2 linked regions of the Homo sapiens genome follow. The protein of the gene in region 1 purifies or fractionates together with the protein of each later gene. This does not show direct contact. Each region holds a gene or a part of one and is shown on either strand. Other genes may lie near its edges. The genes, in order: SLC25A31 and ARHGAP45.

The links.
Region 2: the proteins of SLC25A31 (region 1) and ARHGAP45 purify together in Homo sapiens (co-immunoprecipitation; one large-scale study listed by IntAct). This does not show direct contact.

Annotation. Positions count from the first base shown.
Region 1 is NC_000004.12:127,761,376-127,765,190, reverse strand, and holds part of SLC25A31 (ADP/ATP translocase 4), read right to left. Parts: intron 1,862-3,815; exon of another isoform or gene 1,653-1,861; intron 949-1,652; coding exon 831-948; intron 1-830. UniProt on the Homo sapiens protein: ADP:ATP antiporter that mediates import of ADP into the mitochondrial matrix for ATP synthesis, and export of ATP out to fuel the cell.
Region 2 is NC_000019.10:1,077,051-1,080,865, forward strand, and holds part of ARHGAP45 (rho GTPase-activating protein 45 isoform 1 precursor), read left to right. Parts: intron 1-345; exon of another isoform or gene 346-716; coding exon of another isoform or gene 717-806; coding exon 807-995; intron 996-2,652; coding exon 2,653-2,790; intron 2,791-2,877; coding exon 2,878-3,068; intron 3,069-3,204; coding exon 3,205-3,329; coding exon of another isoform or gene 3,330-3,413; coding exon 3,414-3,497; intron 3,498-3,631; coding exon 3,632-3,736; intron 3,737-3,815. UniProt on the Homo sapiens protein: Contains a GTPase activator for the Rho-type GTPases (RhoGAP) domain that would be able to negatively regulate the actin cytoskeleton as well as cell spreading.

The sequences.
Region 1 (3,815 bases):
CCTGAGCAGCCAAATGACTTACTGTGCTGCCACCCACAGAACTGAACACAAGGCTCCAGATTTAACGGGGCCAGTTGTGTGACCGCTGCAATCACTCAAACACTGAAAAAAGACTCACATAAAGATATTTTATTGTGAAATATAAGATCATCAGGGATAGAAAGAAACTAAAAAGAAAAAACATATACTAAAGGATCCGGAGTAAGCAAATTGGTATCTTAAGAGCAACATTAGAAACTAGAAGTCAGGGTAATATTTTCGTAATTGTGAAGGAAAATAATTTTAAACTCAGACTTTCATATATGTCTTACCCTTTTTGAGAGGGTAAGACAAACACTTTTTTTAAGATATGTAAGAGCTCAATTTATTTTTTTTCACTCTTTCTCAAAAAGTTACCAAAGAATATACTCTACCAAAAAACAAGGGTGTAATAACAAAAAAGGGAAGATGTGATATTTAAGTAAGGATAGAGGCAAAGGGACTCCCTAGGATGAGATTTGTGCATCTAACCTAGAAGGGAGCCACAGCTGAGACAGGACTAAGTGCATGGAAAAAAATCTAGGAAGGGCTTTCTAGGAAAAAAAAATGGGACTAAGTTATAAGCAATTTTTATGTTCACTTTTTTTGTTACAACAGGCTTTCCCTCCTTCCCTTTTTTAAGGGAAAAGAAGCAAGTAATATACTTTAGGCCCTATGACTCCACCATTTGGTTGAGAACAAAGTTCGTAGACTTTATCTGGTAACACTATTATAGCACAATTAATGCCAATAAATAACAGATGGTTCAAAATGCAAAGAAGGAAAAGTTAGTATTTCTAAAAATCTCATACCTTTTCCAATATCGACACCTAATCGGGTTCGGGCAAAATCTAGAGGATATACTACACATAAGGATGTTGCCCCAGCAGCTCCACCAGAAGCCAGGTTTGCCAAAAACCACCTCCAGAACTGAAACATATTAATTTAAAAGTGGTTATTAAACCACAGAATCTAACTGTTTAAAATACCTGGTAAATTCTTATTTTTATAAATGTTAAAACACCAGATTTATAAGCCACTTTTATAAAGTAAACATCTATAATAATGCATACCATGCTATCCAAAATATTTTATTTTTATAGCCATATAGCTTTTGTTTCATGCAGTCTGGAAGACACAGTTTAGATGCTGACATACTGAAATTCCAGGATATTTTAATGTTCTCCAGCAAAGCAGCCCAAATTAGCAAAAGAGGTCGCATAATCATCTCTTTACGCTGTATACTTTTTTTTTTCCTTAATAGCTACATAATTCTTAATAATAGTGCTTGCTATGATTACAATGTCAGGCACATATGGAGGCTTTAGTTGTGCCCTTTTTCTGTGAAGGGTGAAGTAAGTAGTATTATGGCAAAAAACTGCAATTACTTTTTGCACCAACCTAAAATACTTCACAATGCCCCAGCTTCACTTTGTAATTTAAATAGAATTAAATTTGAATAGCTCAAAAATACGTATTTAATTATGTTCAAATGACAACATGGAGATTGGCAGACATCAATCATAATGTAGTTGTATGGCATTTAAGTTAGGCCTCACTGGTCTACTAGTTCACATGAGCTATTGAAGAAGTATAATTACTTTTGATCAACATTTAAAATGTGCCCTCCCCAGGTTCAGCAAGATGCTTTTCAACATCTAGTGCTTATGCGAGAAGAAAGGAGTATCTGAATTGGAGCTGTTATGAAAAATCCAGGATACGAGGCCACTGCAAGCACTTAATACATTAAAGTGAATAATATGCTAGTCAAGCTCAATTTCTTGCTTTATTTTCTGGTTTTTATTTCTAACAATAAAGTGTCAGACAGCTTTGCAATTCTCAATGTTCTCTAGCCCTGGAATGCTCTTCCTTTTTTAAACAAAAAAATAGTTATTGCTTCATGCTCTAATTCAAGTTCTACTTCTTTCATGAAATATCTGATCTCCAACCCATCTATTGAAACTGTATATGATCATACCCTCTTCCCATAAATACTTCATCTCTGTCAGAGAATTAAAGTTGAATCCCATGACCAATACATAAAATGTATTAACATGTTATAGACTCTTTTTTTTTCTGAGATGGAGTCTAGCTCTGTCACCCAAGCTGGAGTGCAGTGGCGCGATCTCGACTCACTGCACAGACTCTTATTTTTTAAATATCACTTACAACCATTTTCTACTTTCAATTTATAATTATTTGTGTACATTTATACTCCTACAGACTATAAATTTCTTTTTTTTTTTTTTGAGACAGAGTCTCGCTCTGTCGCCCAGGCTGGAGTGCAGTGGCGAGATCTTGGCTCACTGCAAGCTCTGCCTCCTGGGTTCACGCCATTCTCCTGCCTCAGCCTCCTGAGTAGCTGGGACTACAGGCGCCCGCCACCACGCCCAGATAATTTTCTTGTATTTTTTTTTTAGTAGAGATGGGGTTTCACTGTGTTAGCCAGGATGGTTTCCATCTCCTGACCTCGTGATCCGCCTGCCTAGGCCTCCCAAAGTGCTGGGATTACAGGTGTGAGCCACTGCGCCCGGCCCAGACTATAAATTTCTTGAGGCCAGCATTATTTTTCCTTAACAGCTTTACTAAGTATAATTCACATATCATAAAATTCACCTATGTAAAGCGTACAATTCAATTGTTAATATATTCACAGAGTTGTGCAACCATCACCACAGCTTAGAATATTTTCATCACACCAAAAAGAAACCCCAGGCCTGTTATAAGTCACTCCACATCCTCCCTACCTCCTTAAGTCCTAGGCAACCATTAAACTACTTTCTGTCTCTATATATTTGCTTATCCTGGACATTTCATATAAATGGAATCACATAAGACACACTCTTTTTTGACTGGTTTCCTTCATTTAGCATGTTTTCAAGGTTCATCCATGTTGCAGTACATATTAATACTTCATTCCTTTTTATTGCCAAATAATATTCTATTTTATGAACATTATCTACTCATCAGCTGATGAACATTTGGGTTGTTTCCATTTGTTTGAGGCCAAGATTCTTAATTCCTCTGTTTATTTCACAGAGCAAGTCAGGAGGTCTTGCCCAGAGATATGTATTAAATAAGTATTTGTTTAATAAAGTGTACTGGTAATGCCACTTACTGTTCCCAGACTCCCATGGATCTTTTTAAGTAACACTCATCAGTTTTATTGTATAAGCAGCATGTCTCATCATACAGAAATAATTAGATCAGGAGATTGCATCTGACATAAGGGTAGTTAATCCACAGTGTAGTAGATGATTGGTAACCTGGTAGAAAAAGATGAGCTGGGCCAGAGCCTCTTTCTTGGGAACTGAACTTTAAATATTCAATACTAGTTATCAATAAGGACAGAAAAGGAAAAGTTAATGTCTTAGACTTTTTGGAGACTGTTTAAAGCTATAGATCCTCTCCTAAGAAAAATTACACATGTATGAACATATATTTTTAGAGTGTGGGGTATTCTGGAAGCATTCACGGATCCCAGGTTAAGAACCTCTGACCTTTAGAAAGGCCAAAAAGGATTACTATGGTACAAATATTGAATTTAAAGGAATAAGAAAATATCAGTAAGTAAAAAAAGTAGGCAATAATGAGAAAACAGAGCAAACACACACACTAAAAGCAGGTAATTAGAGAGAAAGAACAGGTGACTTGGGAGAGAAAGATGAGAGTATAGTTTGGTCCGTAGAGGTGCCTGTGGCTGAAATTCAAGTGCCACTGTATCATTACAATAAATCATCTTTTTCCTGAGGTAATCTGAGTTAATCTCTGCTTATGAAAACCAAGCACATCAACCA
Region 2 (3,815 bases), on another chromosome or scaffold:
CCGTTTGTTTGTGTGCGAATCTGATGGTGCAGGTTGTGAGGTGTGGCCCCCGAGCCCACAGGTTTTTGACTAAGTGCTCTTCCTGCCAACCTGTGGGCGCCTGGCTTCCTGCCTGGGCGGCTTCTCTGTTCTCGTCTGTGAGGAGGGAAGTGAAAGCAAAAGAGCCCGGAGACGCTCCCGTGGGGGCTGGTGTGCGTGTCTGCAGAGGCTGCCGTGTGAGCCTCTGTGCAGAGCTTGGCTGCACCTCAGCTTCCCGGGCTGCAGAGTGGGCACACAGGACACCCATTTCTCCGAGTGTCCTGTTACGGGTGCCTCCTCCCGTTCTTTTTTTTTTTTTTTTTTTTGAGCTGGAATCTCTGTTGCCCAGGCTGGAGTGCAGTGGTGCATGCAATCTTGGCTCACTGCAACCTTCGCCTCCTGGGTTCAAGCTGTTCGCGATTCTAGTGCCTCAGCCTCCCGAGTAGCTGGGATTACAAGCGTGCACCACAATGCCCGGCTAATTGTTTTAAATTTTGGGTAGATACGGGGTTTCACTATGTTGGCCAGGCTGGTCTCAAACTCCTGACCTCAAGTGATCCACCTGCCTCGGCCTCCCAAAGTGCTGGGATTACAGACGTGAGCCACCGCGCCCGGCCACTCCTCCTGTTTTTCCGCTGCCGATTGTTGTGCAGGGTCCTCTGCATGCCCAGCTGGGCCATGGGGCCTTGCTGAGAGAGATGGGGGTGGGGAGGAAAGGAGGAGCTGGGGAGACTGAGTCCCATCCGAGGATAGGGTTGGAACTGGCCTCCTGGCTCCCACACCCACAGCAAGAGGCGGAGTCCAACCTGCGCAAGGCCAAGCAGGGTTACGTGCAGCGCTGCGAGGACCACGACAAGGCTCGCTTCCTCGTGGCCAAGGCGGAGGAGGAGCAGGCTGGCAGCGCGCCGGGAGCAGGCAGCACGGCCACCAAGACCCTGGACAAGCGGCGGCGGCTGGAGGAGGAGGCCAAGAACAAGGTGAGGGCGGGTGGAGGCAGGGCTGGAGGTCCCTGGAGGAGGAGATCCAATGCTTGGTGTGACATTTACTACCTCCAGACCTTTGTTTTTGTTTTTTTGTTTTTTTGTTTGTTTTTGAGACGGAGTCTTGCTCTGTCGCCCAGGCTGGAGTGCAGTGGCACAGTCTCGGCTCACTGCAAGCTCCGCCTCCCGGGTTCACGCCATTCTCCTGCCTCAGCCTCCCGAGTAGCTGGGACTACAGGCGCCCGCCACCACGCCTGGCTAATTTTTTGTATTTTTAGTAGAGACGGGGTTTCACTGTGTTAGCCAGGATGGTCTCGATCTCCTGACCTCGTGATCCGTCCACCTCGGCCTCCCAAAGTGCTGGGATTATAGGCATGAGCCACTGCGCCCGGCCAATTTGTTTTTTGGAGACAGAGTCTCATTCTGTTGCCCAGGCTGGAGTGCAGTGGTGAGATCTCACTGCAACCTCCGCCTCCCAGGTTCACACAGTTCTCTGCCTCAGCCACCCTGCCACCAAGCCCAGCTAATTTTTTTGTATTTTTAGTAGACACAGAGTTTCACCATCTTGGCCAGGTTGGTCTCAAACTCCTGACCTCATGATCCACCCACTTCGGCCTCCCAAAGTGCTGGGATTACAGGCATGAGCCACCGCGCCCGGCCCCGATTTTTAAATTATTATTATTTTTGAGACAGTGTCTTGTTCTGTCACCCAGGCTGGAGTGCAGTGACGTGATCATGGCTCACTGCAGCCTCTACCTCCTGGGCTCAAGCAATCTTCTCGCCTCAGCCTCTAGAGTAGCTGGGACCACAGGCGTGTGCCGCCACACCCAGCTAATTTAAAAAAATTCTTGGCCGGGCGCAGTGGCTCACGCCTGTAATCCCAGCACTTTGGGAGGCCGAGGCAGGTGGATCACAAGGTCAGGAGATCAAGACCATCCTGGCTAACAGGGTGAAACCCCGTCTCTACTAAAAATACAAAAAATTAGCTGGGCGTAGTGGTGGGCGCCTGTAGTCCCAGCTACTCGGGAGGCTGAGGCAGGAAAATGGCATGAACCCGGGAGGTGGAGCTTGCAGTGAGCCGAGATCGCGCCACTGCACTCCAGCCTGGGCGACAGAACGAGACTCTGTCTCAAAAAAAAAAAAAAATTCTTTATAAAGATGGGGGTCTCAGGCTGAGTGTGGTGGCTCACACCTGTAATCCCAGCCCTTTGGGAGGCTGAGACGGGCAGATCATATGAGGCCAGGAGTTCGAAACCAGCCTGGGCAACATGGTGAAACCCCTGTATCTCTACTAAAATTACAAAAAATTAACCGGGTATGGTGGGTGGGGGGCACCTGTAATCCGTTACTTGGGAGGCTGAGGCAGAATTGCTTGAACCCGGTAGGTGGAGGTTGCAGTGAGCTGAGATCGTACCACTGCACTCCAGCCTGGCCTACAGAGCAAGACTCCATCTCAAAAAAAAAAAAAAAAAGATGGGGAGGGTCTCACCATGTTGCTCAGGCTGGTCTCGAACTCCTGGCCTCAAGCAAGTCTCCCACTGTGGCCTCCCGAGGCGCTGGGATGACAGGCGTCAGCCCCGCCTCCCTGAGGTTTCTGTCTGAGTCCTGCACCCCGGGCTGAGGCCTCTCTCTGTGCGCCCCGCCCCCACCGCAGGCGGAGGAAGCTATGGCCACCTACCGCACCTGCGTGGCCGACGCGAAGACGCAGAAGCAGGAGCTGGAGGATACCAAGGTGACGGCGCTGCGGCAGATCCAGGAGGTCATCCGGCAGAGCGACCAAACCATCAAGTCGGTGCGTGGGGTGCTCCGGCCGCCCGGGCGGGGATGGTGGACCGGGCGGCCTCCTCCTGACCCCTCCGCTCTCCGGTGCCGCCCGCAGGCCACGATCTCCTACTACCAGATGATGCATATGCAGACGGCGCCGCTGCCCGTGCACTTCCAGATGCTGTGTGAGAGCAGCAAGCTGTATGACCCAGGCCAGCAGTACGCCTCCCACGTGCGCCAGCTGCAGCGGGACCAGGAGCCCGATGTGCACTACGACTTTGAGCCCCACGTCTCCGCCAACGCCTGGTACCGCCACCCAGCTGCCCTGTCCCCGGCGCACAAGGCCCTGCCTGGGAGCCGGGCTTCCCTCTGTCGGGGGCATGAAGATGAAGCTGTCTTGCCCCCCATCACCTCCCCTCCTTTTCCCGGTTTCTTCCACTAGGTCCCCCGTCATGCGTGCCCGGAAGAGCAGCTTCAACGTGAGTGATGTGGCGCGGCCGGAGGCTGCCGGGAGCCCCCCAGAAGAAGGCGGGTGCACTGAGGGCACACCTGCCAAGGACCACAGGGGTGAGTGTCCGGCGGGGCCCAGGGGCGGACGCTGGCTCCCTGCGACCCACCCTGGCCCTTCACCAGAGACGCCTCTTTCTCCAGCCGGGCGAGGACACCAGGTTCACAAGTCATGGCCGCTCTCGATCTCAGACTCGGACAGTGGGCTGGACCCCGGCCCTGGCGCAGGTGAGGGAGGCTCTCTGGCGGGCTGGGGTGTGGAGCTGCCTCCTCTCCTGAGCCTCAGGGTTTCATCACCCACCGGGGTGATGGAGGGGGCCCCCCTGGCTGGGGGAGTCTGAACAGTCCTGATTCCCGCCCAGGGGACTTTAAGAAGTTCGAGCGGACGTCATCCAGTGGTACCATGTCGTCCACGGAGGAGCTGGTGGACCCAGACGGTGGAGCCGGGGCTTCAGCCTTTGAGCAGGGTGAGGGTCCCCTGACGGGGCTGGAGAGAGAGGGGGGTTTGGACACAGTCCATGGGCCTGGCCCTGAGCTGCCTTGGTG